Linked DNA regions of Homo sapiens: all the other regions are reported to be linked to region 5. Evidence: microRNA targets listed by miRTarBase, many of them from high-throughput screens and not tested one by one. Region 5 holds a microRNA gene; each other region holds the end of a gene's coding sequence.

Region 1 (4,343 bases), not on the chromosome of region 5:
GGGAGAGGATATGTTTACAGTTTTTACACTGAATATTCTGTAATTTACCATGCAATTGAATTACTAATGAAATGTTAAAAGAGCATATCATACCTCTGCCTCAGTTCTCTTCTAAGTAAGCTTTTTATGTAGTCACGCAATTAAGACTGTCAAGACATATTTGAATTTCATTTTGAATGGTGCCAGTGGCCCTGTGCTCCTGGTTGATACAGCATTTATACCCAGTTTGTCTTACTAGCTAATTTAAACTCTGAGCACATCCCTGTCACCTTCACAACTATAAATGAAATATCTTGCCATATATGTAGAAAGTAAAAGGTATGTGTTTCTTAACTTCTCCCTAAACTTCAGCTTGGCAGTAGTTTATAATTTGATGCTTTTGATGCTTTTTTTCTCTGGGTTTTAGTTTCTATATTTTTCCAAATGCCATTTTGAAAAGTTGCATTATAGATAGATATAAGTAAACAGGTGGGCACAGTGGTGCACACCTGTAGTCCCAGCTACTCAGGAGGCTGAGGCAGGAGGATCACTTGAGCCCAAAAGTGTGCGTACAGCCTGGGAAATATAGGGAGACCCTGTCTCTTAAAAAATAAATAAATAAATAAATGTATGTCTGTCTAATTTGGATTTTTAACTGTTATTTGACCTATTTTTTTAGGGACCATGCAGAGTGCCCTGTGTCGGCATGCACGTGTAAATGTATGCAGTTGGATACAACAGGGAATCTGGTACCTGCAGAGACTGTCCAGCCATAAAATGTTACCACCTTAAGAGAACCCTTCAAGTGTGGAGCTTTCTAGTAGGTGTCCTTCATAGCTCAGAAACATACCTCAGAACAAGCCATTCATGACTTACCTGTAATGGGAAAATAAATCATTCTATCAGATCAGCAGTTTTGATGTTTGAGTGATTTTGATATGCTTCACAGAGACAAATGCTGCCAAAATAAACATCGAAGTATAGACATGAGTTCTGTTCAGCAGGTTGAAAAGTCTGATTTAGAAAAACTTTCTAAGTTTTGGTTGAAATTATGAACACTCTAGAAGCAGAATTTCTGGAAGAGCCAAGAACAGACTTTGAGCCTATATCTTCAAAGCTGAAACTGGATATCTTTCAATAAAATATGTGCACTTTTAAAATAAAATGACTAATTCTGTGATTCAGACAATAGTTTTAAGTTCAGCTGTGCTTAGATTTCTTTCAGATTAATTTAAAATTACAGATTTTTACTTTTAGAATTGCAGAGCCCCTATCCCACACTGGAGAATATTTTTTATTACTGTCTGTTATATATGTGTCTATGTGTGTGTGTATATTTATGTGTGTATGTATAAATATGTATTTTTTAAAGGAGCCTTTTCCCTCCTTTGATTTTAAGATAAGCAATCTTTTGGCATAACATTATCGTCTTCCTAGAAAAGCCAAGATGAAGAATCTATCTTACAACTTTTTCTCTTCAGTAGAGAAAAACATGTACCATTTCAGGTGAACATACAAAATTTTCACTTTCTACCTTTTGCCTTCCAATGTCCTGATTTGTCTTCAAAGGTTTTTCTCCATATTAATTTGTCATCTTATCCTCATCACCTGAGAACATTTTACTGCATACAAAGTCTATGCAAGATTATATGTAACTAGCCATTTAGTATAATCTATGTCAGTGTTTCTGTGCTGTCAAATTCCGTCCTGATTTGGAATACCATACCTTGTTCTTTCCAAGGTAGACTAGGAAGTGTTGGGGAAATGGGGTCACTTCAGAGACCATTTTAGATGTAAGTTTTTAAATGTAAGTGTTACTGGGGCTAAGTCAGGTACTTTATTTAAAACATTTTTTTTTCTCATTTCATAGCTAGATAGTTGTAAGAGAAATACAAAGAATTTACAAGATGCTTCTCTGTCATCTGCCATATGCAGAGGGACTGAACTAGGAATTTTGTAGTTGAAGCTGTGTTCATAAAGAGTAAATCTTATTTTATAGATTTTGGAGAAATAAAACAAGAATTTTAAGAGCTTTCGTATTAGCAGTTTTGCCTTATAAAAACTAAGATTTGTCAGATTAGTTTGAGGTGTAACCTAAATATTAAAAGTAGATTAAATTTATTTTTTACCTTGAGTGTCTGATACATAAAACCCTTTTCTAGGAAAACATTGGAAGTAGTACATATTTACTCTAAATGTCTCACCTGCATGACAGTCTTTTCAAATGAAAGACATGGTAATTGCAATTTTTTTTTAAAGATTGCTATTAAGGGTACTTTTTCCAGCCTTCATTTGAGTAAATCTTAATTGATTTCATTTTATTAACATATACCCTTTACCTTTAATATTTCATTTGAAGTGTTCCTTTCAAACTTACTGTCTTAAATATGAAAGTCAGCTTTAAGTAATGTCAGACTCATATGCATTTTCATTCTCATTAGCTAAAGTAAAATGTAAAATTATCTCAAATAGTTACAAGTTTTGGAAATACAGTATAAAACATGAATGTAAAGTCTATTATGTAATATGCTTATTTGTAATCCTAATATATGAGGGTGACATTTTTAAGATTGTATGTATGTGTCAACCTCTTAAATGTTTTCTGTGAAGCCCAAACATGCAGTTTATGTCTCTGGTGTCTGTTTTGCATTTCAGTGTGCATGGACAATCAAATTATTTTCTCATTTTTATCACTAAGTCACTGGTATTTGGGTTTATAAACTCAACAAGATACTTTACCTAAACATGATCAATAGATGTGTTTATTAAAAGTGTTTTTATTATTTTTAAAAGATTGAATAAATCTGGGTTGAAGTCATTGTATCTAATCAAGAAATTATGATTCCTTTACAAATAATCCACGTGAAGTAATATTGGTGCTTTTTTTGATGACAGACTTCATACTTAATATTAGAAGTAACATTCCTTTTAGGCTCTGTTTTTCAATTCAACCCACTTTCCAGAATAGTTATTATCCTTTAAAATGGTATATTTTAAAAGTAGCTTCCCATTGTCAATGCTTCACATAGTAAGTATTTAAAAGAATGTAGTTCTTCATTTAATTAGATGACTCAATTTCAGTCATTCATTTGACTGCAAGTAGTTAAAGCATGGTCTTTGAAACATAAATTATAATCCTAGCCTCGGGATCTTCGGTAAGTGACTTGACCTTTTTGAGCTTCAGTTTCTTCATATGTTAAAAGAAAGATACAGAAATACCTACCTCAGAGTGTGGGAGTATTAGGTGATGCAATAAACATGAAGTGCCATATCCCTGTCACATGGTGCTCTATAAATGGTAGTGATTAGCAGTCATTGTTACCTTCATTTTCATAGATTGCTCATGTATCAGTACTTTTTCAATGAATACTTATAGTATAATTTTAATTATAGTTAAAATTATAAGTATAATGAATACTTATAATTTTAACGAATCTACATTTGTCTCAAGAATGAAAATTTCCTTGGTGTGAGTTAGCTGAAATAGATTTTCTTAAAAAGAGTGAAAATTCCCAATAATAGTTATACTCCAAATATAGGGTAAACAAAAGTAGCTAAGTCCTGTCTCAAAAGAAAAATGCCATAATTTGGATAAATTTATAGTATTACTGTTTTTGCTGCATGCAAAAATCCTCCAAATGACCTCCTAAGAGTTAAATGTGATATAAAAATGAACCCAGAGGAAAAAATTATGGCAAATTTAACAACTGACTATTGAAAACTTTAAGTTTTATGTCTAAACTCTTAATTTAACTACGTTTAAATTGAACTCCCTAATCTGGATACTTGGAGAAAGTATCCAGGATTATTCTGTGTACTTTTTCTTTTTCTGCCATTCTATTACACTTGATGTTCATTTAAATTATAATGTTGGGGTGGTAGTGATAATTTCAAAAGTATACTGTGAGACTTGCTGTCCCGGAATAGCCGTAATTAAAGCTAGTGGGCACAATTTCTGACATCTGCTCAGACAGGCATCAGAGAGGTAGGAGGCACATATTTGGGTCAATATCTTGTATCAAGTCTAGTGACCCACATCACAATGACAGAAACAGGCCTTGTTAGATAGCAGCTCCCCTGTCCACTACTCACTCCTTCCATTACATCATCTGCCAGTTTTCTCTCCTACCTGAAAATGTTGTAGGTTACTTTGTTGATTATAACAAGTAGCACTTTACAAATATATTAATTTTTATAAAATACTACTTTTCCCAGAGTACAGCGACAGAAGGAAAGCTTCCCAAGGTTTTTAAAAGCTAACAACCCAGATATCAAATTAACACAACTTTAACATGATAAAGTCACAAGTAAAATTAGCATCAAATGCAGCAGTATATAAATTACTGTTAATGCCTTTTATGTGC
Region 2 (4,321 bases), not on the chromosome of region 5:
ACCCCTGTGAGGTGAGTTTAGCATTAATCTAATCACCTTCGTTCGACAAGGAGAGGCAATATAAACAAGGAACTGTCCCAGGATTACAGAGTAAATCTAATGAAGACATCTGAAATCACAGCATTTTGGGAGGCTGTGAGCCGATCACTTGAGGTTGGGAGTTCAATGCCAGCCTGGCCAACGTGGCGAAACCGTCTCTACTAAAAATACAAAAAAAATTAGCCAGGCGTGATGGCGTGTGCCTGTAAACTCAGCTACTGGGGAGGCTGAGGCAGGAGAATCACTTGAACCTGGGAGGCGGAGGTTGCAGTGAGCCGAGATTGCTCCACTGGACTACAGCCTGGGTGATAGAGTGAGACTCTGTGTCACACACACACACACCACAAAAAATAAATAAATAAATAAATAAATAATAAAGTTGAGAGGTCATAACAAATACAAAAACTCACTACAAAATTGTTTTCTTAGGCCTTTTCTCTCAGTTGTCTAATTGTATTTTCAGATGGAAGCAATACAAATTAAAATGCAGCTGAGCCATTTCAAGTAAAATGGATATAAAATTGTAGCACCAAAAAAGCTGAAGCCAAAAATATATTCATTTGCCATACAGGAATAGAAGTACTTTGTGATGTTATATGGGAAGCTATGCCGATATCCAGCATATAGATATTAAATCTGGAGTAGTCTCTAGTGTCACTACATTATTTTCTACGGCAATATGGCCTACTTCCATTACTCATGGGCTGAATATTTTATTTTATTTTATTTTATTTTTTTGAGACAGAGTCGTGCTCTGTTGCCCAGGCTGGAGTGCAGTGGTGCGATCTTGGCTCACTGCAACCTATACCTCCTGAATTCAAGTGATTCTCATGGCTCAGCCTCCAGAGGATCTGGGACTACAGGCATGTGCTGCCACGCCCGGCTAATTTTTGTATTTTTAGTAGATGGGGTTTCCCCATGTTGGCCAGGCTGGTCTCAAACTCCTGGCCTCAAGTGATCCACCCACCTTGGCCTCCCAAAGTGCTGGGATTACAGGTGTGAGCCACTGTGCCCAGTCTGAATATTTTATCTTATACTGTTTACCTCTTAAATCTATCCCTGCTCACTAGAATTGCCTGTCAACATTACATTGGGATAGAGAAAACTGGTGACACGTCAGCTAGTTTTGCTATTTATAGCTGCTTTGATTAAGTAGGTTTAAAGCTAACAATTAGTTTTGGACTACCCATGGAGCTGATTTTCTGCATAATTTCCCCAATATAAAGTTAATTAATATTAGATCAAAGATGACACAGGTTAAACAAGATTTTAAAAGAAAAATAAAATTTCAACTTTTTTCCCTCAAACGCCTGCAATATAACACACATCTTTGTCTAACGTATTAGTTGTCACAGGAGACATTTGGCTGACAATTTGTTAATATAAAAATTTTCCTGAGAAGTCTAGTTTACATGAACTGCCAATTCCTCTACCCCCAAACCCCTTTAAACATACAGATGAAGGATAATTTGTGTCAAAAAAATACTTCGAAGTCCATCTTTCGATTGGAGGTTCTTACACTTGTAATTCTGTTTTAGGGCAATGAAGTTCCCAAAAGTGGTCTCCAGATGCCCAACATGTCCAGTCCTCATATTCACTGGCATTGAGTATTTCCTTTCTACTAAGTTTAAAAGACCACTCAAGGCAGACCTTTCTACAACTGCATCATGGGGAGATCAGCAAATACTACTTTGTTCTTTTCAGGCTGAGAAAAACACCTGAGTTTTTGTAATTTTTTGAAAACTGTAAATATAAAAGTTCTCTTCAAGAGAAGCACCACCATCCTCATGACCTGCATTACACATCAAGGGACAGAACAAATATTAACTAAATGTTTACTTCAGGTTAAATGGTCCAATAAATCACATTTGTCTTTAACAATGCGGTAAATTTTGAAAAATCCAAAGGAAATAAAAGGGAAAACTATCATAAACTATGAAAAAAGAAGTCTAGGGAAATTGATAAAAACAGTCCAAGAAATGCAGCTGAGTATCACAATGTCACAAGGAGACTCTAGAGAAGAAGTTTTCCCTGATTTCCATTAATGCTTAAATGATCTGCTGATGTATAAATTATCTCCTGTCCCACAAACTGAAAACAAGTCACAAAATCCACATTAGAATATAAGTTTTTTAATTTTTATAAATAACTTATCTGTTACAAAGATAGTTTACCCAGCTAAATCACAAAACCATCAACTCAAGATATCCAAATTACGTTTTATTAATAAAACAAGTAAAAACTGATTTATCAATCTTCACATAGAACTGCAGATGAAGCTGAAAAACAAGGCCTATTTTAAAAATAAATTGCATCAAACGTAAGGGCTTTGGGTCTATGGTTTAATTACCTAGGATTGTCATATTTCTTCCCATATACAAAATGCAAAGCCTGAAAGTTAGGGCTCTGACATTCATAGAGATCAACTGTAATAATCCCATTTAAAACACAGCCACTTGCAAACATTTACAGTGGGTGGTAGTCTATATTATCTTCCATCCTTTGCTCTATTTCAGCACTTCCCTTAGCCCCATTCTAAGCACTCATATAATTTCATAATTCTGTCTTTTTAAATGCATACTGTTCTTTTTCTTGATTTCAGTTATATACATTCCTGATCATCTGAATATTTTCCTTACAAAAATATATCATCAAAATAAAGAGATGCTTGAGGTTGCTTCAGTGTTCAAGTTTGCTTGTTTTTTTTTCCAGCTTTTCTTCAGTTGTCCTAAATATGGCTAGCCTTGTTTTATAAATACACATGATACTGTCACCAAGTCAGGATTAGAAATGGACTGCCCCAACAGTAAAGCATTTAAACTTCTCTCCAAAAAAAGGGCTGTAGGTACTGCTGCTGTTGCTGGTTTTGAGACTGTACTTTCCCAATAACAACTGCTTGTGCAAGTTCTGTGGGACACCAAGCAGATGAAGCTTAACCTTGTTGTTCTGTCAGTGGGTTAAAAATATCTTTTGTTTTAAGCTTCCCTGTGGAAGACAAACACTGTGTTGTGTCACCCACTGCTCAAGTCAGTATTTAATGTGACCTACAGACATCACTTCTGTAATATCATCTGCAATTCACTGTGCAGCATCTGCCTGTCTTCACACAACATTGGAACTCATGAGGGCAAAGTACAGAATAAGTAGAGGAAAGTTATTCTGTGCATACTTTCATCTCATTAATGCTTTTTTATTTTAAGGCATTGTTCCTCTCAGGTAAGGCTTAAAAAGGGACATGATCGTGCTTAATTACTAAAAGGAAAAAAGAAAATTAGTTAACAAAAGGCTATTACACTATACATATAGAAATATAAGAAAATAATCAAGAAGAAAAGAAATCACTTAAAGCAGACTCGAGAGATCTGTACAGTAGGAAAAGCTTTGGGGTATTTCGCTGCACATTTGTACAGACAATGCATGCTGCTTTCCTTTGCATCTTTAGCCCCTAGATGCTGGCTTCACAGAGTGGAGACACGTTCAGGGAAGACAAAGACAAGGCCAAGAGTACCACAGATTTCTGAAGTTCTTCCCTATCCAATGGCACTATGCGGCAGCAAATGGTTCTTAAATAGTTAAACCTTGTTCCTTTTCTTCGTGTATGTAGTGTTTCACTGAAAGCTTTACAAATAAAACAAGCTATCATTCTATTCCTTCCTCCTGTCAAAATTCAGTAGTGACATGAGGGGAAAAAGGTATTGGGAACACCTAGGTGTTAACATATTGAGAATTATCCATAATGGGACACTGGTAACACTGTACACAGTTAGGCAGTGGGCAACCAAGTCTTTCAGCAGATTACTTTTCATGTGATGAATTTCAACTGCTCATGACATTATACTGAGGTATTATTAGCTCTGTGGGCTGACATTTAACATTAGCAGAACACCATCTTGTCACACCTTCAATTTGACAAAATCCTATGTAGCAGTGAAACTTTTTCCCGATGACAGACTAGTTTCTTGAACTTTAGATGTGGTTTTAGAGAAGATACAGGGCCATTTGGCTCAGAAATGCCTTGGCATCTCACACTGTTCACAGCGAATTAAGGCTGGATGGTTCAAAAAAGTACAGGCGGTACAATTCCACTGAGCTCCCTCATCATCTTCTGTGTCTTGAGTCTTTGGTGTTTTGATGATGGACCTTTGATCTGTAAGAAAGAAAAAAATTATTTTATAAGTAAAAAATCACAAAGTCTAAAAAATTACAGGCAACTTTAAACACCATTTGTAGTGCACAGCCTGATGCAGCTTGCTCCCCAAATGGGGCATCTAGCTGACACTGA
Region 3 (4,343 bases), not on the chromosome of region 5:
ACGCCCACCAAATCAAACCATTTTTCGTTTCTTACCTAATAATAAAAAAATAGCCATAGTAGAAGTCATGGACCTAAAGCAAACCTTAGCCATAGAAACCAGATATCAAGATGTTAATGCCTGGCTGGAATGGATTAAATATTCCATTCACACCCTAAATAAAAGCGATTGTTACCCTTGTGCAACAGGTAAGCCAGAAACCCAAATTGTTCCCTTTCCACTCGGATGGACCTCCAACCAACAGGGCTTGAGCTGTATGGTAGCTCTCTTCCAAAACCCCACAGCCCGGGGGAATAAGGCATGCTAAACTCTCGCTGCTATTTCTGGAAGTTAAAGGCCCTGTAGGTCAGCCCGAGGGCCTCCGATTAACAATGTAAATTTTACGTGTCTCACGACAGGGGGAAAATTTGGCATTCCTTGGAAGCCTAATGGGATGTAGTGAGTCCAAGCCTTTTCAGGAGCTAACCAATAAGTCTGCCCTTGTTCATCCCTGAGCATCTGGATTTATGGTGGTATTGTGGTGGGCCACTATTGGGTACTCTGCCAAGTAACTGGAGGGACACTTGCACTCTAATCCAATTGGCCATCCCTTTCACCCTGGCATTTCACCAACCAAACAAAAAGAACAATTGTTAAGAGAAGTCCCCCTTACATGTCCTTTGACCCTCACATTTATATAGATGCCATTGGAGTTCCATGAGGGGTGCCAAATGAGTTTAAAACCCAAAATCAAATACCTGCAGGATTTGAATCTATATTGCTCTCATGGGTAACTGCAAACAAAAATGTAGACTGGATAAATTACATTAACTATAATCAACAATGGTTTGCTAATTATACTAGGGATTCCATTAAAGGAATAGCTGAACAATTAGGCCCTACCAGCCTAATGGCCTGGGAAATTGAATAGCCCTGGACATGGTATTAGCTGAGAAGGGTGGGGTCCATATCATGATTGGAGTCTAATGGTGTACTTTTATCCCCAACAACACAGCCCCGGATGGAACAATTACAAAAGCCCTAGCAAATGAATTGGCCAAAAATTCTGGAGTAAATGACCCCTTCTCTAATCTCATGGAAAAATGGTTTGGCAAATGGAAGGGACTCATAACCTCAATCTTTACCCCCCTTGCAATTGTTATAGGTGTACTTATTCTTGTAGGTTGCTGCATTATACCCTGTATTCATGGATTAGTGCAAAGACTCATAGAAAAAGCTCTCACCAAAACCCCTCTTGCTTCTCCCCCACCCTACTCAGATAAGCTCCTATTCCTGAGTGACTAAGAGGAACAATAAAGTCAAGATATGTTAAGGAGACTTGACGAGGAAGAACTACCAAGTCAAGAGGGGGAAATTTGCCAAACCATCAGTTCCTCTTCAAACTTCCTTGTTCCTTTTAGCAACTAATGTCCTTTCACATTGCTAGAAAGGATAAATTCTTGTTCTCTAAACAAGACTTTCCATCTTTGCTGTGCCTAAACATGCCCAAATATGCCTTAATGGACAATCCCTCCCTCCCAACCTTTCTTTACAAGTTACGTGTTTAAAGGTTTCAGTTTACCCTATTTGGAAAAGTTTTACCACTCCTACCCCTTCTTCCCTGTCTACCCTATTTGGAAAAATTTCAAGTTTTAGCCAATCAGGTTAGCTTAAATTGTGTGGTCCGACTCCAGCCAATGGGAAAAGGATACAGAAACAGAAGCTGCATTAGGGATAAAAACCTTTCTCTCCTTTGTTCAGTGTGCTCTTGTGATTGTGACTGGTGCAGGCAGCAGCACCCTTCTGCGGACGTAAATTTGCCTTGCTGAGAAGTCTTTTGTTTGAGTGCTCATTTTCTTTGTGACTCTGAGCTCTTATTTCCAACACTGGGATTACAGACATGTGCCACCATGCCCAGCTAATTTTTGTATTTTTAGTAGAGATGGGTTTTCTCCATATTGGCCAGGCTGGTTTCGAACTCCTGACCTCAGGTGATCCGCCTGCCTTGGCCTCCCAAAGTGCTAGGATTACAGGTGTGAGCCACTGTGCCTGGCCATAATTCATTTTAAAAAGTTTATTCATTACTTATAGAGATGGGAGCTTGCTATGTTGCACAGGCTGGCCCTGAACTCCTGGCCTCAAGCAATCCTCCCACCTCAACCTCCACAGTATCCAGAGTACAGGCGTGCACCATAGCACCAGGCAACTGAGTGCAATTCAGCCCCTCCATATATACTGCCAAATGTTGGTCTCAAATATATACTGCCTCCATATATACTGCCCAGCTGGTCTCAAACTCCTGTCCTCAAGTGATTCACTTGCCTTGGTTTCCCAAAGTGTTGGGATTACAAGCATGAGCTACCATGCCTGGACTCAAATAGATAATCTTGTTCTTACCAAAGCAGTAACTGAGGAGTGTGCAGGACTCCTCCACCCACAGGTGATGCTTCTGACAGATCACAAAGGAATTTAGAATTCTAGTTTAACAATATCACTCTTTACTCAAGTGGAAGGGAGTATATATTTTTTCCACCTCTGTAAGTAAAGTTCATTTTAGCAGTTGGTAGAACTGGTGTCCTACCAACTAGGCTAGGTTTTCTACCTAGCCATGCCTATTTATGTCTTTGCAATCAAGAAAGATTCTCCATCCCTGGTAACAAAGCATCGTCTTCCTAAAGTTCACTTCACTGTATGAAGAACTGTGAGGATCTAAATTCTACAGTATTTCCCTTTGTGAGTTTATTAAACTCTAATGCTAGGCACATACACGTCTTTGAAAACTGCCTCAAACTTTCTCCTTCCTGGGACTTCCTGTAAATGAATTTCATTCTCACTGTCCCAACAGCTCCAATCCTAGGAATTAATTGAAAAATAAACTACAAACGTGAGCAGAAAAGCCTTCACAATGAATCCTAGAGAAAACAGTTCAATTATCTGAAAGGAGTGTTCCTTCCTACACCCATGCCAGACTCTGATTTTCCCATGCTAGCAACTGTGACATTACAGAAACATCTGTTCCTGACACTGTTCAACTGTTTAAATAACCAAGGAGGAGAAAAAAAAGATTTATAATTAAATAGTATTTAGGGTCCCAATAGTCAGAGTCCAATAATCCAAAGGTCATCTATGCAAAATTAGGAATATGCATTTTTCTCCAAAGAGTATCTTTGGCTTTAATCTGATTCTCAAAAGGATCCTATGATCCAAGAAAGTTTAAGAACCATTGAAACAGTAATTTATTCCTGAGCTATTTGACTGCCATCAATCCATTTGTTATAAAACTGAAGGGAAAACACACATTTGAATCACTTCTTCTAAAGCTTTAGTAAGTGATCTGTTCAAATAAGCAATTACATGAAAGAATAAAACCAAATTTCCAACCTAAAATTCTGACAGGAGAGTCAACATGATGGTTAAGGCCTATTTCATATTCAAACTTCAGTCTATGAAAGAGTAGAGAGAGAAGGGTCTCCTCTTTCAAATTAAATATTATAAAAACAATTAAAAAAAGGTATCAATAGTCCTAAAATGCAGCAACTCCATCTCAAACAAGCATGACACACTTCTGATCAGATGAAGTATTTACAAAGGTAGCTTGTGTTTTAAGCATGTAACACTTTGGGTGACGACAGAAGTTTCTCCTCTTTGGGTGAAACCTGCCTAAGGCTGTAGAGATGACCAACACTCTGCAGGTGTTAGTTCTGAATAACTACTGTGGGCTTTTCATGATCTTCCCTCCAGTAGGAGACCACAATTGAGTCTAAAGTCAGATCCACCGTTGTCTATGGGTAGGCAGGGTTGATTCAAACTTAATCCTTGTTTGTATTCTTTTGGATTACTGCAAAAACATCTAGGGACCAGAGTGAATGTCTGGTGAGGCATAACTGCAGAGGTGAAAGATGTCAAACATTTTCAATTTGGCAGTTTCTTCAAGGTGTGTGAAAATTCACATACAGAAGGTCTGGCAGTGTCTTCTGTAAGTTTTCGTGTTGCCGTATTTCTGAAGGAGCTCTTGGGCCTGCTGCTGCATTTCCTGGGCCAGACAGCCAGGAAAGTGGGACCTGATGAGAAGCAGGACGAGGCAGCACTCCAGCACATCTGGGAAGGGCCAGGCCTGAAAGACGATGACATGAGGATGAATAAGGAAGCATTTGCAGAAGAGCCACAAACACCTGCACAGAAGGCACCAGTCACTCAGGTTCATCTATAGACACTTCTTGGACACAGCTGAGCCAGCTGTCTCCTAAGGCAATGTCCTGTCTTTCTCTTCAACAGTTACTCCAAGGAGAAATGACACTCAAAACTAGGATGGCTACTGCGATGTCCTTCTCAATGGCACAATCTCTTTCTACAGCCCTATGCAA
Region 4 (4,000 bases), not on the chromosome of region 5:
CTTACTAAAAGCATTTTCTCACCTCTTGAGTTTCCACTTCTCTTTCCACTGATTGAAATGGGTTGCATCCAACCTGCATTCTTGAAATGGAGACTTCTTTAGTGAAACTCCAACACCCACTACACATCGGTGGAGAAGGCAGAACAGCCAGGGGACATACTGCAACCCCTCTCCTCTGGACCTCAAGTTTCTCCTCCACTGTCTATTTGTTATTTCTCTCCTGTCTCAGGATGAAAGTGTCTTTTCACTCCTTCGATGCTAACTCATCAACTTGTACTCTTGGTCCCAAAACTCTGATTTGGCTTGTGGCTTACATTAGCTCCTCAACATCTTTCCTTCATGGCTGGATCTCACCCTTCAGGTTTACAAACTTAGTTCACTTCCCTGCGGACTAAAAAACACAAGTCTCCATTTTACTCTGGCTCTTCTCGGAGCAACCATTTTACCTCCTTCCTTCCCACCACAATTGCCCACTGACTCTGCTACACTTCTCTGTCTACCTTCTGCCCTTGCCACTTAAGAAGGTTACACACATCCAAACCACCAAATCCAAGAGACTTGGATCCTTAAATGCTGCTGAACCTCTGAGGACATCTAACGTTGTTTCTTTCGTCTTTTTTCCTTATGAATCTGGTTCTTTCTTTGAAACCCCACATTTCTCTGATTTATCCACCTTATCTTCTTCCCCTTTCCTATAGAATATGGCCATGTCTGGCTCACCACTCTTGGTGGTCATCTGCTTGATGTTTTACTGCTCTGCCCAGTTGTCCTTCTTCCTCTCAATGGTGGTGGCTGCCCAATCTGCTGGACCCCTCAGTTCTAATTGTTAGCTCATTTCCTCAAAGAGATGGCTTTTAAAACCTAGCCCAGGCAAACCCAAACTCATCATCTTGCCCACTGTGCTAGATCTTTTCTGATTGTTTGCCCAATTCAAAATGGATTCTCCATTCTTTGGAGATGGACACCGATCTATAAGGTAGGCCCCAAGCAGCCATTTGACCTGACTTCCTGGTCACAGGTGACTGGCACAGGGACAGCCACCTGCCTAAGACTCCTGTTTTTAAGTGAGAGAAACAAGAACTGGATAAAGACTCAGTAGTGAATGGTACTGCTCTGAGAGAAAGGTGCATGGATTCCTGGTGCTAGGGGCCCTTAGAGCTGCCCCACTTCCCATCTTCCTGGTTAATTCAACTCTTCCATGGATCTCTCATATATGCTAGGAAAGTTCTAGTACAGTCTGTCTCTTAGCTAAGCTTGCTAGAGTTGGCTCCTACTTAGAAAACTTTAAGTAGTGAATCCACTGACATTTGTCATCCAAGAATCTCTCTCTCTGTCCGAAACCCCACCCATTCCCTTCCCCAGCGAGGGCTTGAAATTTGACTCTGATCGATCTTTCTGTGCAACCCACATCCAGAACATTCAAACCTTGTGCATTTTATCTCCAAAATAATCCTCTCCTCCAAGTCCTCTGCTACTGTCCTGGTTCCAGTCTCTGTGATCTCTTTTCTGGGCTTGTCCAGCCTCTCCAGGCTCCAGTGATCATTCTGATCGTATCACTTTTCTGCCTAATATCTGAGGCTAAGTCTTGTAACTCTTACCACAGCATTAAAAACCCTTCTCCATCTGGCTCACAGGTGCACAGGGCTCATCATCTGCTATTTCCATTCCTATGTGCCAGCCAGGCCTGATCGCCGACCTTATCCAAACATTGTCCATGCTTTGCATCTTTCTTCTATGATTTTTGTACTGCTGATCCCTTTGCCCGTTGGCTCTGGTAAAATCTTTCTCCTTTAAGGTCTATCTAAAGTCCTTTTCCTAACCCAGGGGATAGAGAAACGTTCCCTCTATCTTCTGGGACAGGAGTTCCCTGCTGGACTGGGAGGCACGGCTCCCTTTGATTCCTGGCACTGCAGTGGTTGATTGGTAAGTGGATATTGAGTGCACAGGATCGTACACCATCCCAATGTCCACCAGGTTAGGAAAAGGCCTAGAGAGAATAGCCAAAGTCAAAGCATTTTCTACTGTCACTGCTTACCACGCTTTAAGCCAAAGTCAGGAAAAGGCAGGCTAGGGGTGCTGAGTGGTGAATTACATGGACTGTGCCCCAGACCTCCAGACCTCAGTGTCTGAAAAACAAGTTACTCATGAAACTGGTTTTAGACTCCAGGAAAAACACATTTATGTGGCTTGCTGTTCATAAAACACTTCCATATATATGAACTGATTGAAATTTTCACTGTGACCCCAGTAAGCAGTTAAAGTTTATCGATATAAGTGAGGAAATAGCCAGGTCAGATGTAAATCACAGACCTTCAACAGGAAACAGTGTTCCTTCTCTCGGCTATCTCCAGTGCAAGTGTTAAAATACAACGAAAAAGGCTATTGGGGAAAGTCTGAATAGGGCAGAGGACGGCTCTGCTTCTAAAGCACGTGATGTTCTCCCCACCTTTGTTGTCACGCATATGAGCATCCCTTGCCAGCCTAGGGAGGCTAACCACACAGGACAGAAAATGTCACTCTTTCTCCAGGAATAGGTATTATCCCCAAACACTTTGATTTGATGATAAAGTATATCAGTTTTTCAGAAACCTATTTCCCCCATCAACTCCCCACCTCTAGGTTCAACCTGGAAAATAATCTGCACGCATGTGTATGAGTTTTAGCAGGAGGGGATATGCATGTACACATATGCATATACATACAGGTTTATTTAAATGATTGGATCTACACTTTTGGAGGCTATTTGAAGTATCTTATCAAAATAAAACGCATTTTAAGCAAGAAGTTAAAAAAGCTTTTCAGACCCGAAGGCCATTTAATACAGTAAATCTTACTTGGGTAGTTTAGCAAACATTTTTTAAAACCCACATCCAACAGATTGGTTAGTATTAGATACACAGATTTGGTTTCAAAGCTGAAATACCCCTGGTGGAATAAATCTTCTCATGAAATTCAGTTATATTATGCCACAAAACAGGGACACTTATCTATTGACAACTTAAATATTAACTCAGTGGGCTACCTGGTGATATAAATAGGAAAAAAACAGTGGTCATGGATTAGGAGTGAGAAGACTATGACACCAGCCTACCTTGGACTGGGACCGCAAAGGATGTTAAAATCTATCCTAGAATTTAAAACAGGAAAAATGTCAAATATTCCACTCCCCATTCGGCCCAAACCATCCCCCAAGGAATACACCCCCACCCCACCCCCACATGAGGTTTACTAACCAGCTGCTACAGATGTTACTATGTCACTAATTAACAATGATCACAGAAAATGTGTCATACCAGAGTTTTTGTTATCATACACAATGCATTAGTGGCTGCAGGAATCTTCCTCCAAAAGCTACCGTCAGAAGGCAAACTGACAAATGTCCATGCCGCTGGTCCAAGAAACCACAGCTAAGAGCCATGAGGCATTCATTTGTACATTGAGCTCTCTCTGGCATGCTCCCCACTCTAGTTAGAGGGGCTGGGGTATGGAGAGACCGTCCCAGCCGGGCGCTGCAGCCTCCTACTCCTGGGCCTCCTTGCGGGTCAACTTGTAGATCTCAGTGGGTCCGTCCACATGGGTGATAGTGGTGGTGAGCTGGAGTTCTTCCCCACTATGGACACCCAGATCGCCTGAAACAGGGTTTTCGGTGTTAGATGCATTCAAGGAGGAAGGAGAAGCAAGCTGGGGTTCATCTCATGGACAACTGCCCTGATGCTAGCCCTCTTTGACATTCTGAGCACACAGAGACACCTAGGGCACACAACATTCAGAACAAGGACTAACTCCAAACCTGTTCACTTGGACTTTGCAGAACTTTTTAAAATACCATTTTTGGCTCCTAGATGACAGTCATTAAGATACGTGAGTCAGCTCACTGCTGATATTATTCATAGTAATCATTAACATTTAATGAGCATTTACTTTGTGCCTGACGCTATTCTAATCACTTTGTAAGTGATCTTCTTTAATCCTCGCAGAAGCCCTCTGAAGTAGGCAGTAT
Region 5 (4,339 bases):
AGATCTGCTCCGGAGACAGAGGGGGCTGCTCTGAGACTCTGAGGCCTGGCAGTGGGAGTGGGGAGGGATGGAAATGGTGTTTAGAGGACAGAAGTGGCCAGATGTGGCTGCTGACTAATTATGGGGTGAAGAAGGGGATTTGGACAGTGCCCATGTGTCACCCACTCTGGCCCCAGAGGATGATGGGAGAAGGGACCATGGGGCACGTCACTCATCTCCAGCTGCAAACTCCTACGCAGCTGTCAAGACCCAGCTCAGATGGTCCCTGCTTTAGGAAGCCCTCCCTGCCCTTGGGCCCCTCCTCCACGTCCCTTTGCCCTTGGCCCACAGGGTGGCAGCAGCTCCGGGAGGGTAGGCAGGCCTGGGCTCTGAGGTGTTTGCCGTGCAGGACTGGCACAGATGGGTGTCAGGGTAGGGGTGCCGGTCTGCCCAGACGTGGCCATGCAGGGCTGGGGTTGCCTGCAGAACCAAGGCAGGCCAGGAGGGCACAGGGGGGAATCTGGGCCAAGATTGTGGCCTGGGTCAACAGGAGGGGCGAGGATGGGCACTTGGGTGGGGGAGGTGTGGGCCCAGCTGTATCAGCCCCTCCCCACCAGGGGCTCTCGGTGCTGGGCCAGGCATGAACAAGCCCACCCCACATGCCCAGGGCGGGATCACTGGGCCCAGCCTACGGCAGCTGCTAGACGAGGGCCTGAGGCCTCCCAGGAGAATGGGTGCACTTTTGGGATGGCAGTCTGTCAGAGGAATTACGGGTGCCCTGGAAACTGTCCTGAGGGAGGACGGAAGGACAGGCACGTCCAGACTTTGGTCAAGGCACTTAAGGCACGGAGGTGGCCTCAGGAGCCAGGACTTGGCAGTGCTCTGAGCTGCTGACCTGGGGCCTTGGTGGCTGCCCCGTGGGGACCTCTCCACCGGGCCTGGGTCCCGGTGTTCAGCCCGCCTGGCTCAAAGGCAGCACGAGAGGGCAGAGAACGGGCTGGGCCTGGGATCCTGAGCCCAGGGTACAGCACGGAGCCAACTGAGGACTCTGGAGGCACCGGGAGGCGTGAGCAGACAAGTCTCATGACCTGGAACAGCTCGTGGCCAGGGGCCTCCACACTGTCCCGCAGCAGACGCGCCCCAGAGCCCAGTCCCTGGGCTTCCAGAATGAAAGGGGCCAGTTCCAAGTTCATGGTCAGAACAGCTTTATTGAATCTAGCTCCCAGATGCCCACCCAGCTTCGGCTCAGGCCCCCTGCAGGTCACTGAGGTGGGGGGCAGCCCTCCCGTGGGGTCGTGTCACTGAGGTAGGGGGCGGCCCTCCCATGGGGTCGTGTCACTGGGCTCCTCAGGGAAGGCAGTAGGTTGTATAGTTATCTTCCGAGGGGCAACATCACTGCCCTGAAACCACACAACCTACTACCTCACCCCGCCAGGCCCGGCCTTGCACTGCGGGAGGGCCCGCCGCCCCCCGCCCAGCACCAGCCCCTGCCTGGCGGTCCTCAGTCACCAGAGCAGGAGGGCTGGGCAGGCGCAGGGCAGGAGGGACAGGGGAGATGGCACCCCAGGAAGGGGCAGCTGCTGCTGGCTGGTCTTGGGAAGTCCCTGGCTCTCTGGGCCTCAGTTTCCCCAGGTACAGAGGAGCCACTGTCTGCCTTCAGATTGTGCCATGTGGGACCCAGTGTATGCAGAGCTGTTCCTCTCACTTCCTGCTCAGGAAAGGTGCCTTGGCCTCCCTTCCTCCACAGGCAGAGGCCCTGCCACTGAGCTGGCCAGGCTGGGGCACGTGCTGGGAACCTGGGGTGATGGGCAACGCCAATACTCGCAGCCCTGTGACCTCCAAACGTCTCGGCCACCCCTGGCCCCACGGTGCCTTCTCCTGGTGCTCAGTGGAGGGTACGGCTCAGGGCCACCCATGAGCCTGGGCCTGATGGCGGGGGGAGTGTTGGGGAGTGTTGGGAGACAGAGGTCAGACAAACAGCTGCGTGGATCGCCTCTCTCAGTGCGGCTGGGGCAGAGGGTGGGGTCGGCTCAGCTCTCCTCTGCCCTCGATGCTCCACACTGCATCTCCTTCCATCCTCATTTGCCTCCATTTTACAGAGGAGGAAACTGAGACCCAGAGAGATCAGGGGCCTGTCCAAGGTCACACAGCAAGTGGCACCTAGGCCTGTCAGACTTCTCAGTGTAGGCGGCCCCTGCCCCCGACTGCTGCCAAGGCTGCCCCCAAACCTGGCCCTGCCCGCTCCCAGCCAGGGTTCCAGACGCTCTGTCCACCGCAGATATTACAGCCACTTCAGGAAAGACAGTAGATTGTATAGTTATCCCATAGCAGGGCAGAGCCCCAAACTATACAACCTACTACCTCACCCCAAAGGGCAGTCGGTCTTGGTGCCGATGGGACTCCGTGGCTTCCAGAGGCACCTCCTGGGGACGCGGGAGGAAAGAGGGCTGAGGAGAACAGGGGCTCGAGGCTCGGCAGGCCACACGCACCAAGGGCACAGGGATTCTGGCGGGCAGGCGCGGTGGGCGCAGGGGGCTGGGACGCCGAAACCCTGGGAGTGGGGACATTGTGGCCAGCACCAGCAGGGACGGGAGCCTGCAGGAAACCACCAACCAGAGAGGGACGAGGAAGAGAGAAAGGAGGAGGGAGGGAAAGCCCTGGCGGCATTTTGCGACGCTGTCACAGGCAGCCGGCTCCCTCTCATCTGGACAGGAGTGGCCATAATGTCCCCAAGGAACTCTGCACTGGAGACCCTAGGAGGAGGGCTGTCATCTGTCGAAGGCCAGCAAGACACAGGCATGCGAGTGCCCACCCTGCTCGGCCCCCTCCCTCCCCGCACAGCGCCACCAGAAGCAGCACTCGTGGCCCCCAGGCTGGCTGAGTAGCGGCTTCACGGGCGTGCCGTCTCCTCCCACTGGGCAGGCAGGCATCCCTCCCCAGGGGCCCTGGTTCTGGCCCTGCTGTGCAGGCTGGCCTGAGCTGACCGCACTGCAGGAGGTGGCGGGAAGGTTCTTTCCTTCCTTGAGGGAAGTGGCCTCTAGGGGAGAGCAGCTGGGGGGGTAGTCACAGACCCTCAGGTCCACCCAGGGTCCAGTGCCTGTCCCTGCGGGTGCTGGCACACTCAGTGCCCTAGCTTGGGACGCACAGGGCTGGGACAGAGTGTAGCATGAGGATGACACTGAGAGGGCCTCGGGGCTCCCCTAGCAGGGGAACGTGGCGAGAGACGGGCCTCCCTAAGCCCCGCCTATCCTGGGCCTGGTGCAGGGTCAGCCTCAACAAATGCTAATTGTGGCTACCACCTTCCTGGGGAAAAGCTGAGGGGGCAGATACGACTGTCAACCCCTCTTAAACAGGTGAGGAGACCGAGGCCCAGAGAGGCAACGTGACCTGGATGTCACACAGCCAAGGGGGCAGCAGAGTGAGGTCCAAATGTCCTGCTCCCTGCCAAGCTTTTTTTTTTTTTTTTTTTTTTTTTTTTGAGATGGAGTCTCACTCTGTCCCCCAGGCTGGAGTGCAGTGGCGCGATCTCGGCTCACTGCAAGCTCCGCCTCCTGGGTTCACGCCATTCTCCTGCCTCAGCCTCCCGAGTAGCTGGGACTACAGGCGCCCGCCACTACGCCCGGCTGATTTTTTGTATTTTTAGTAGACAGGGGGTTTCACCGTGTTAGCCAGGATGGTGTTGATCTCCTGACCTCGTGATCCGCCCGCCTCAGCCTCCCAAAGTGCTGGGATTACAGGCATGAGCCACTGCGCCCGGCCTGCTTCCTGCCAAGTTAAACGGCATGCTAGCTCTCAGCTCCCCATGCCCAAGTGGACTTGAAAGGTCTACCCCAGCCCTCCTTCCACAGCCCATCCTGAGCAGGCTGCCTACTCCAGGCAGGCCCCAGGCTGGGCTGGACCATTTAATCCTCACAGCCCTGGTAAGGCTGAGATCACGGATCCCACTTCATAGTGGAGAAACTGAGGCTCAGGGGGTGCTGAATCTCTAGCTCTAGGTGTCTTTGCTCTCAGAAGTTGGTCGGGGAGGGGGTCTGCTTGCTCTCTGGGCACGTGTCCTACTCCCTCCCGAGGGGCACTGGAGCAAATCCCAGGTCCTTAGCCAGCAAGGAGACCGCTGAGGCTCACACCTGGTGCCGCCCACCCAGAACTGGAGACTGAGATGCTGACTCACCCAGGAGTGGGGACCAGGAGGGCCCCGATGCAGCCCGACCCTCCTCTGTCCCAGCATCATCTCGCCTGGGGTCGCGAAGACCCCGTGTTCCCTCAAGGCCTCAGAACAAAAGCGGTATGAGAGGGTCTGGGGGTCCTGCTCCCCTGCTCCAATTCTGGGTCCCCTGGCTGGTGGGCAGGACCAAGATGT
Region 6 (4,343 bases), not on the chromosome of region 5:
AACTATTACTTCTCAAGGATCCAAATCAGACAACAGCTGAAAACTGGATTTGAAGGTAAAGGTGTCAGTTAATGGAAGAGCTGTGAGAACAAAAAAACTGGCTGTTGAGGCGTTGGGCCAAGGGGCTGACAGGGATCAGGTTGCCAGAAGAGTAAGAATTAGAGATGGTGAGTTGAAGGAGAGCTAGCTAGCTGGCAAGAAAAGTGGGCAAAAGATAAATTCTGGGGGTGGGAGCAATGGAAAAGCTGAGAAGTCAGCAGTCTCTATTCTGATGCCCCTGGCAGGTGGGAAAGGAACAGGGAAGAGGAACTGTTCAGGACCATATCACATTTCTTTCCCCTCTCCCTGACCCTCAGCATCCATTCATGGAGCTTCGAGTCCTAGAGAACACAAAACGTTCCCGGCGGAACCTGGGTCTGGACTGCGACGAGCACTCAAGCGAGTCCCGCTGCTGCCGATATCCCCTCACAGTGGACTTTGAGGCTTTCGGCTGGGACTGGATCATCGCACCTAAGCGCTACAAGGCCAACTACTGCTCCGGCCAGTGCGAGTACATGTTCATGCAAAAATATCCGCATACCCATTTGGTGCAGCAGGCCAATCCAAGAGGCTCTGCTGGGCCCTGTTGTACCCCCACCAAGATGTCCCCAATCAACATGCTCTACTTCAATGACAAGCAGCAGATTATCTACGGCAAGATCCCTGGCATGGTGGTGGATCGCTGTGGCTGCTCTTAAGGTGGGGGATAGAGGATGCCTCCCCCACAGACCCTACCCCAAGACCCCTAGCCCTGCCCCCATCCCCCCAAGCCCTAGAGCTCCCTCCACTCTTCCCGCGAACATCACACCGTTCCCCGACCAAGCCGTGTGCAATACAACAGAGGGAGGCAGGTGGGAATTGAGGGTGAGGGGTTTGGGGGAAAGGGGAAGCAGGGGCATAGTCAGGGTGGGGAGTGTTTGAAGTTTGCAGATGAGAAGGTTTGACAAAAAGACAGAGAGATGTAGAGACAGTGATAGAGACAGAGGAACAAAAAGAGCAGCAGTGAGAAGGCAAAGAGAGAGGCAGAAGAGACAGACGAGGCAGAGACAAAACACTGAGAAAGAGACTGAAATGGAGTAATAAATGAAAGCCCCACACCAAGCCTCCTTTCTTCCACTGGCAAGGTGAGGGGCTTGGTATAGTTTGGGGAGATCCCCTGACTATTCAGTAGGAGAAGAAATCAAAAATCCATTCTTTTCTCCTTCTCTCCCTCCAACAGTGGCCAGGGGAAGGGGAAGTGAGGGCAGGGGCAAAAAGATTTGGGAATTTTTATTTATTTATTTATTGTGACTTTTCATTTTTTTGGTATTTGGCTTTACTGGAATAGGAGGGCCCCTGCCCACTGTGCCCCGTTTATCCCTTATTCCCCAAACCCTGCTCTCCCCAACACCTACTCACTTAAGCACTTGTATAAAGCCTCCAGGGTTGGGAATGGGAGTAAAGGGCAAGAGGGCGGACACATGAAGTTTAGTTTCTAACCCATCATCACCCTAACTCAACCTTTTCTGAGCCAAATGGCTTGAATTGAAGCCAGTTGTCATGGAAATAGTAAGAGGTTAGGGTTTAAGAGCTGGGGATGCGGGGGTGGGAGAGAGAACCCTCAACATCCAGGATCTATATAATGAGAGCTACTTTAAACCCTCAGGTCCACCCTCATGATGCTGAGTTATTTAGCCAGAGGGTGCAGCCTGCTTATGCCCAAATTCCCTCAGCCAAGAGAGAGACCAAAGAGCCTCTGGAATGGCCCTGCTCCCAGCCTCTATCTTCAGGTCAATTAGAGAGAGTATAGAGACCCCAGAGTCCCCTGGGTCTGGAAAGCGTTAGGAGAGGTCAAGAAAGGAGCAGTAAGGAGGCTGAAGGTTACAGGGCATTTGAATCCAAATCACTGCTCTGGGCTAGGGAATAGAGCCAGCAGACCAAGGTGGGAAGGATTCTGGAAGGGGGACATTTTAGTCTCCTAACCCCAAAGCTCAGGGTGGAAGAGGGGAGAACAAGGAAGCAGAGTGTATAATTATTTTTTCCTTTTATTTTTGGAATCTAACAGTACCTGGCAGCAGGGAGGGGAAAGTACAGTGGGGAAAAGCATCTGACAAGGCCAGTTAGAACAGAGGATGGGAAGGATGGAGACTCCCGGGCTTGGAAGGCTAGGAAGCAGGCAGAGACTGGTTGCCATTTCAAGTCACTAGCTAGGCCCATTCATTCCTCCCACAACCCTGACCCATTCTCCTCTGGACTCACTGTGCCTCAGTTTCTTCCCCTCAATGGAATGAGAAATGACAGCACCCGCCACAGCCAAGAGATGAATTCTGAGCACTTACCACGGGCACTTTATGGACATAAAATACCTCTCGCTGTGGGACAGATAACCAGGGCACCAGAGTAGTGGTGAAGAGATGTGAGGCTTAAGAGGAGTCACAGGCTTCAGAGTACAAGTTCCCCTCTGCCTCCCAGCTGGACAGTGCCTAGAAGCCAAGGAGTTGAGAATCTCCTGATCCACACCCTATCCTTACTTCACCACCAGGCCTCTTGGCTCCAGGCAAGAGCTTAGAGGATGTCAGGAGAGGTGGGGGTAAGAATCTTCAGCAAAACTGTCACTCTAAGTAGAGCCAGCAGTTACGGGTCTGATAAAAACAGTACTGAACTAAAGTAAAGCCCAAGCTGGTGAGCAAAACTGGATGGCTCATTCTTCCCAAGAGCATGACTCTCCCCCTTGGCCAGTTGGTGGAAGGGGCAAAGGTATGTGACCACCCTTGAGAAGGTGATGTTGGTGAGCTTTAACATCTTATTCCTATTCTTATAGTGAGAAAGTGAAACAAGATCTTTCAGTAGAGGAATGGGCAGGGCTGTTAGGCTCTTCAGCTTGCCTTCACCCATATAGCAGCTATGCTAACCCCAAGCCTCTCTGGCCCTGTTCTTCATCCTTCCTTCTGCCCCAATCCTGAAGGACAAGACACACCCGGCCATCAACACCACTCACATTTCCTTGGTGGAAGGAAAGGAACAGAGAAGTGAAGAACAGATACCTCCCTCCAAGGTCAAATGCCTCGTGATCTTGGCAGAGTAGGGATTGGGCAATAAGCATCAGGTATCTTCCCTCTACAGATTCTAGAGAGCTGGGGCATTAAATATGGGGGACACTTAGAATACAGCTCCTTAAATACCACCAAATAAAGACCTTTGTGTGTGTGTGGTGGGTGGGGGGGGGGCAGGGGTCTTTCTCTTATGAACATAAATCTGTGAGCTGAAGTCTCATTCCCCTGTTCCTCCCTACCCCCAAAGAGGCACAGAGTGAAGGGACTTGGGGGGCACAGCTCAGCAACCCAGTGGGAGTTAGCACCCCCTCCCACCTTATGATGTGTGTGGACCTGGCCAGTGCCCCTCTGAACATATCATTATTAGTGTAATTATCATTTATTTTGTGTATTTGTCACATTGTGTGCATGACAGCCTTTGTTAAGGGTGTCTGAGGAGTATGGAGCTGACAGGGGCATTGGAATGCCAGGAAAGAACTTCTTCAACTGAGATCAAGGCTTCCTGGAGGGAACCACTGCAAAAAGGCCATCAGGCAGTTTTCAAGTTATGTGACAGAGGGCAAAGACGGCCATAGGGTGCTCTGAGTTTTGGGATGGTCACATGACACAATCCAGCACTTGAACCTGAAAAAAAAAATAAAAGCGGTCAAAGAGTTTAGAATTCAGTGCTGAGCTCTTCTCCCTAATCAAGTGCCACATTTACACCTTGGAGAACCGGAGGTGAAGAGGATCTGAGACAGGAAACCTCGTGTTCAATGACTAAGAAGATGGGGTCCTGGAGCAAGACAGAAAACACTAAGGGCATGGTGGTATAAGGTTTGGGACATGCAGGCCAAGGAAGGATGGAAAGAGGACAGGAAACTGGGGGTACCTAGAACAACCCCTCTCTGAAAAGCTTGAGCCAAAACAGTCCCAAAGACAACAAGACCCCTCTCCCAGCCTCCACAGAATGGAAGATCTAAAGGTTCTCTTGAGATGATCCAGCTAGTATGGAAGATCTAAAGGTTCTCTTGAGATGATCCAGCTAGTGTCCTATTCTCCTGCAGTCCCTGTTCCTAGGTTTCCTCAACGAAGTTTGACAAAAATCTAAACCAACATAGCCAACGAACTTGCCTTGTTACACAAGAGTGGCTAAAATAGCATCTCAAATATTCTTTCAGTTCACTGTAAAAATTTTTCCCATGTACCTAGAGCACAATTCCCCAGGAATATGAGTTGGGAATGGCAAAAGAATATTGCCTGACTCACATTTTTCAAAAATAAGGAAAGCTG
Region 7 (4,343 bases), not on the chromosome of region 5:
TGTCCTTATTGGCCATTTTGTGCCAGGCACTGTTGTAAGAGATGGTACTTTATTACTGTGGTTTTGCAGTTGAAGACATTGAGACACAGAAGATTTCATAATATGCCCAAGGTCACCCAAAAAGTAGCACAGCCATGGTTGAAGCTCAGGCAGTCTGCCTCCAGAACCTGTTGTACTTAACACTTCTTTGGACTTGTTGGATTAAGAACATCTTGTAGCATTTCCATTTAACATCATTTTCTTCATCCTTAAAATGGGAACCATAATGTCTGATCTGCTTGTTTCATAGGAGTCCAAATGGAGTCAGCTTAATTCAGTAAACAGCCCCTGCATGACCATGTCATGAATAGGCCATAGTTCTTGTTCTCAAATTGTTCATTGTCCGTGGAGGAGCCCGACAAGTAAACAACTAAAATTCAGCATAAGCTTGTAAATGCCAATGCTATATAGTCTTGAGGAACAGATAAATTCCAACAGTTGTTTAATATTTCCATGACGCCTATTTTCTCTTGCATCTCAAAGGAAACAGCTGAAAAGACCAAGAGAGTGAGCACCAAAGAGATCTAATGAGGAGGCACAGACCAGTGTCTGGATCCCAGCATCTTCTCCACTTCAGCGCTGAGTTCAGTATACACAAGTGTCTGCTACAGTCGCCAAATCACCAGTATTTGCTTATATAGCAATGAGTTTTATTTTGTTTATTTGTTTTGCAATAAAGGATATGAAGGTGGCTGGCTAGGAAGGGAAGGGCCACAGCCTTCATTTCTAGGAGTGCTTTAAGAGAAACTGTAAATGGTGCTCTGGGGCTGGAGGCTAGTAAGGAAACTGCATCACGATTGAAAGAGGAACAGACCCAAATCTGAACCTCTTTTGAGTTTACTGCATCTGTCAGCAGGCTGCAGGGAGTGCACACGATGCCAGAGAGAACTTAGCAGGGTGTCCCCGGAGGAGAGGTTTGGGAAGCTCCACGGAGAGGAACGCTCTCTGCTTCCAGCCTCTTTCCATTGCCGTCAGCATGACAGACCTCCAGCATCCACGCATCTCTTGGTCCCAATAACTGCCTCTAGATACATAGCCATACTGCTAGTTAACCCAGTGTCCCTCAGACTTGGATGGAGTTTCTGGGAGGGTACACCCAAATGATGCAGATACTTGTATACTTTGAGCCCCTTAGCGACCTAACCAAATTTTAAAAATACTTTTTACCAAAGGTGCTATTTCTCTGTAAAACACTTTTTTTTGGCAAGTTGACTTTATTCTTCAATTATTATCATTATATTATTGTTTTTTAATATTTTATTTTCTTGACTAGGTATTAAGCTTTTGTAATTATTTTTCAGTAGTCCCACCACTTCATAGGTGGAAGGAGTTTGGGGTTCTTCCTGGTGCAGGGGCTGAAATAACCCAGATGCCCCCACCCTGCCACATACTAGATGCAGCCCATAGTTGGCCCCCCTAGCTTCCAGCAGTCCACTATCTGCCAGAGGAGCAAGGGTGCCTTAGACCGAAGCCAGGGGAAGAAGCATCTTCATAAAAAACTTTCAAGATCCAAACATTAATTTGTTTTTATTTATTCTGAGAAGTTGAGGCAAATCAGTATTCCCAAGGATGGCGACAAGGGCAGCCAAGCAGGGCTTAGGATATCCCAGCCTACCAATATGCTCATTCGACTAACTAGGAGGGTGAGTTGGCCCTGTCTCTTCTTTTTTCTGGACCTCAGTTTCCTCAGTGAGCTGGTAAGAATGCACTAACCTTTTGATTTGATAAGTTATAAATTCTGTGGTTCTGATCATTGGTCCAGAGGGGAGATAGGTTCCTGTGATTTTTCCTTCTTCTCTATAGAATAAATGAAATCTTGTTACTAGAACAAGAAATGTCAGATGGCCAAAAACAAGATGACCAGATTTGATCTCAGCCTGATGACCCTACAGGTCGTGCTATGATATGGAGTCCTCATGGGTAAAGCAGGAAGAGAGTGGGAAAGAGAACCACCCCACTCTGTCTTCATATTTGCATTTCATGTTTAACCTCCGGCTGGAAATAGAAAGCATTCCCTTAGAGATGAGGATAAAAGAAAGTTTCAGATTCAACAGGGGGAAGAAAATGGAGATTTAATCCTAAAACTGTGACTTGGGGAGGTCAGTCATTTACAGTTAGTCCTGTGTCTTTCGACTTCTGTGATTATTAACCCCACTCACTACCCTGTTTCAGATGCATTTGGAATACCAAAGATTAAATCCTTGACATAAGATCTCATTTGCAGAAAGCAGATTAAAGACCATCAGAAGGAAATTATTTAGGTTGTAATGCACAGGCAACTGTGAGAAACTGTTGTGCCAAAAATAGAATTCCTTCTAGTTTTTCTTGTTCTCATTTGAAAGGAGAAAATTCCACTTTGTTTAGCATTTCAAGCTTTTATGTATCCATCCCATCTAAAAACTCTTCAAACTCCACTTGTTCAGTCTGAAATGCAGCTCCCTGTCCAAGTGCCTTGGAGAACTCACAGCAGCACGCCTTAATCAAAGGTTTTACCAGCCCTTGGACACTATGGGAGGAGGGCAAGAGTACACCAATTTGTTAAAAGCAAGAAACCACAGTGTCTCTTCACTAGTCATTTAGAACATGGTTATCATCCAAGACTACTCTACCCTGCAACATTGAACTCCCAAGAGCAAATCCACATTCCTCTTGAGTTCTGCAGCTTCTGTGTAAATAGGGCAGCTGTCGTCTATGCCGTAGAATCACATGATCTGAGGACCATTCATGGAAGCTGCTAAATAGCCTAGTCTGGGGAGTCTTCCATAAAGTTTTGCATGGAGCAAACAAACAGGATTAAACTAGGTTTGGTTCCTTCAGCCCTCTAAAAGCATAGGGCTTAGCCTGCAGGCTTCCTTGGGCTTTCTCTGTGTGTGTAGTTTTGTAAACACTATAGCATCTGTTAAGATCCAGTGTCCATGGAAACATTCCCACATGCCGTGACTCTGGACTATATCAGTTTTTGGAAAGCAGGGTTCCTCTGCCTGCTAACAAGCCCACGTGGACCAGTCTGAATGTCTTTCCTTTACACCTATGTTTTTAAGTAGTCAAACTTCAAGAAACAATCTAAACAAGTTTCTGTTGCATATGTGTTTGTGAACTTGTATTTGTATTTAGTAGGCTTCTATATTGCATTTAACTTGTTTTTGTAACTCCTGATTCTTCCTTTTCGGATACTATTGATGAATAAAGAAATTAAAGTGATGGTTTTATTGGTTTCCTTTCCCCCAATTAAGGCCAAATAAAGTCGTGAGAACATTACCCATTTACTTCCTAAGAGTGGATTTGAGTTTCAGGAGCCTTAAAAAGGACTGAAGAGTTTCTCCTGGGACTACAGCTTGGATGGAAAGTTTACTCGGGGACTGGTAGAACAAGTTTCTTTGAAAGGATCATGGATAGTGGGTCTGGAGTAGAAGGTGATGACAAGTCAGAAAGTGTCTTAGTCCCTTCAAGTTGCTATAACAAAATGCCTCAGACTGGGTAATTATAGGCAACAGAAATGTATTGCTCACAGTTCTGAAGGCTGGGAAGCCTAAGATCAAGGTACCAGCAGATTCAGTGTCTGATGACGGCTTGTTGAAGCTTGCCTGCTTCAAAGAATGCACCTTTTTGATGCATCCCCACATGGTGAAAAGGGTGAACAAACTCCCTTAGGCCTCTTTTATAAGGGCACTTACCCATTCATGAGGGTTAAACTTTGATGACCTAATCATCTCCCAAGAGCCTCACCTCTCAATACCATTGCTTTGGGGATTCAATTTTAACATATGAATTTTGGGGGACATAAACATTCAAACCATAGCAGGTGCATTCCTGTATTGGGAAGACATTAAATTAAATGACTCGTAAATCCCCCATATGATTTAGGAGACTAAATGGCATCCAGTGAGGCTGACTGCAGTAGCCTGTGAGAAGGCAAATAAACATGGGAAGGTAGTACAGGGAACATGGAATCATTGCCAGGGACAGGCTAAATAACCTTAATGGCACTTCCTTGATACACACATTCCATGGGGGTAAACAGTTCCAAGTGGGCTGAACGTTAGCTGGTTAAAACCTCTTTTGCTTGGGGACACATGACTAACGCTTTCCAACCTGCCATTTTCATATGTATCATGCACTCTCCACCCACAATAATTCTGCCTCCCAAAAGAGCATATTATAGTCAATGAGGTTTAAGGTTTCTTCGGTTCAGTCATGTGGAAGTTTTGCTTTCCTAAAATTATAGCTGGATCACTTTGATTGGATTTGGGATATTACCCAAATGCTAATCAAATATTAAAAGGCAATCTTTTTTGTTATGTGAT

What was found. The annotated mature microRNA hsa-let-7b-5p reads UGAGGUAGUAGGUUGUGUGGUU and lies in region 5 at 1,384-1,405, opposite strand. An mRNA with a match to its seed (bases 2 to 7 or 8) in the 3' UTR can be bound and repressed. Matches are read on the target gene's strand: a 7mer-m8 pairs with bases 2 to 8, a 7mer-A1 pairs with bases 2 to 7 and ends in A, and an 8mer does both.
Region 1: the mRNA of MIOS is a reported target of hsa-let-7b-5p. Seed matches in the 3' UTR shown: 7mer-A1 at 827-833.
Region 2: the mRNA of TAB2 is a reported target of hsa-let-7b-5p. Seed matches in the 3' UTR shown: 7mer-A1 at 3,878-3,884.
Region 3: miRTarBase lists GEMIN5 as a target of hsa-let-7b-5p. The part of its 3' UTR that is shown has no 7-base or 8-base seed match.
Region 4: the mRNA of WLS is a reported target of hsa-let-7b-5p. The part of its 3' UTR that is shown has no 7-base or 8-base seed match.
Region 6: miRTarBase lists GDF11 as a target of hsa-let-7b-5p. The part of its 3' UTR that is shown has no 7-base or 8-base seed match.
Region 7: miRTarBase lists FSTL1 as a target of hsa-let-7b-5p. The part of its 3' UTR that is shown has no 7-base or 8-base seed match.

Annotation. Positions count from the first base shown.
Region 1 is chr7:7,606,338-7,610,680 of GRCh38, forward strand. MIOS (meiosis regulator for oocyte development) reads left to right here. Exons shown (of 13, transcript NM_019005.4): 13 at 659-2,595. The coding sequence ends at 755. Among named protein-coding and RNA genes, the nearest start is that of UMAD1, 32 kb to the right of the region's middle.
Region 2 is chr6:149,409,442-149,413,762 of GRCh38, reverse strand. TAB2 (TGF-beta activated kinase 1 (MAP3K7) binding protein 2) reads right to left here. Exons shown (of 7, transcript NM_001292034.3): 7 at 2,156-4,186. The coding sequence ends at 4,044. Among named protein-coding and RNA genes, the nearest start is that of SUMO4, 11 kb to the right of the region's middle.
Region 3 is chr5:154,884,285-154,888,627 of GRCh38, forward strand. It overlaps GEMIN5 (gem nuclear organelle associated protein 5), which reads right to left. Exons shown (of 28, transcript NM_015465.5): 28 at 3,127-4,093. The coding sequence ends at 3,926. Among named protein-coding and RNA genes, the nearest start is that of CNOT8, 28 kb to the left of the region's middle.
Region 4 is chr1:68,122,707-68,126,706 of GRCh38, forward strand. WLS (Wnt ligand secretion mediator) reads right to left here. Exons shown (of 12, transcript NM_024911.7): 12 at 2,654-3,629. The coding sequence ends at 3,520. All of the region lies in intron 8 of GNG12-AS1 (GNG12, DIRAS3 and WLS antisense RNA 1), which reads left to right. Among named protein-coding and RNA genes, the nearest start is that of MIR1262, 59 kb to the right of the region's middle.
Region 5 is chr22:46,110,757-46,115,095 of GRCh38, reverse strand. It overlaps MIRLET7B (microRNA let-7b), which reads right to left and starts at 1,410; the gene lies at 1,328-1,410. LOC124905135 (collagen alpha-1(III) chain-like) reads right to left here. Exons shown (of 2, transcript XM_047441696.1): 2 at 1,168-4,339. MIRLET7BHG (MIRLET7B host gene) reads right to left here. Exons shown (of 5, transcript NR_110479.1): 5 at 1,168-4,339. It overlaps MIRLET7A3 (microRNA let-7a-3), which reads right to left and starts at 2,347; the gene lies at 2,274-2,347. It also overlaps MIR4763. RefSeq lists an enhancer at 3,786-4,319.
Region 6 is chr12:55,749,146-55,753,488 of GRCh38, forward strand. It overlaps GDF11 (growth differentiation factor 11), which reads left to right. Exons shown (of 3, transcript NM_005811.5): 3 at 357-4,343. The coding sequence ends at 737. It also overlaps a transcript of SARNP not described here. Among named protein-coding and RNA genes, the nearest start is that of GDF11, 8.2 kb to the left of the region's middle.
Region 7 is chr3:120,393,176-120,397,518 of GRCh38, reverse strand. FSTL1 (follistatin like 1) reads left to right here. Exons shown (of 11, transcript NM_007085.5): 11 at 523-4,343. The coding sequence ends at 567. It overlaps MIR198 (microRNA 198), which reads left to right and starts at 1,790; the gene lies at 1,790-1,851. It also overlaps the pseudogene BTNL12P.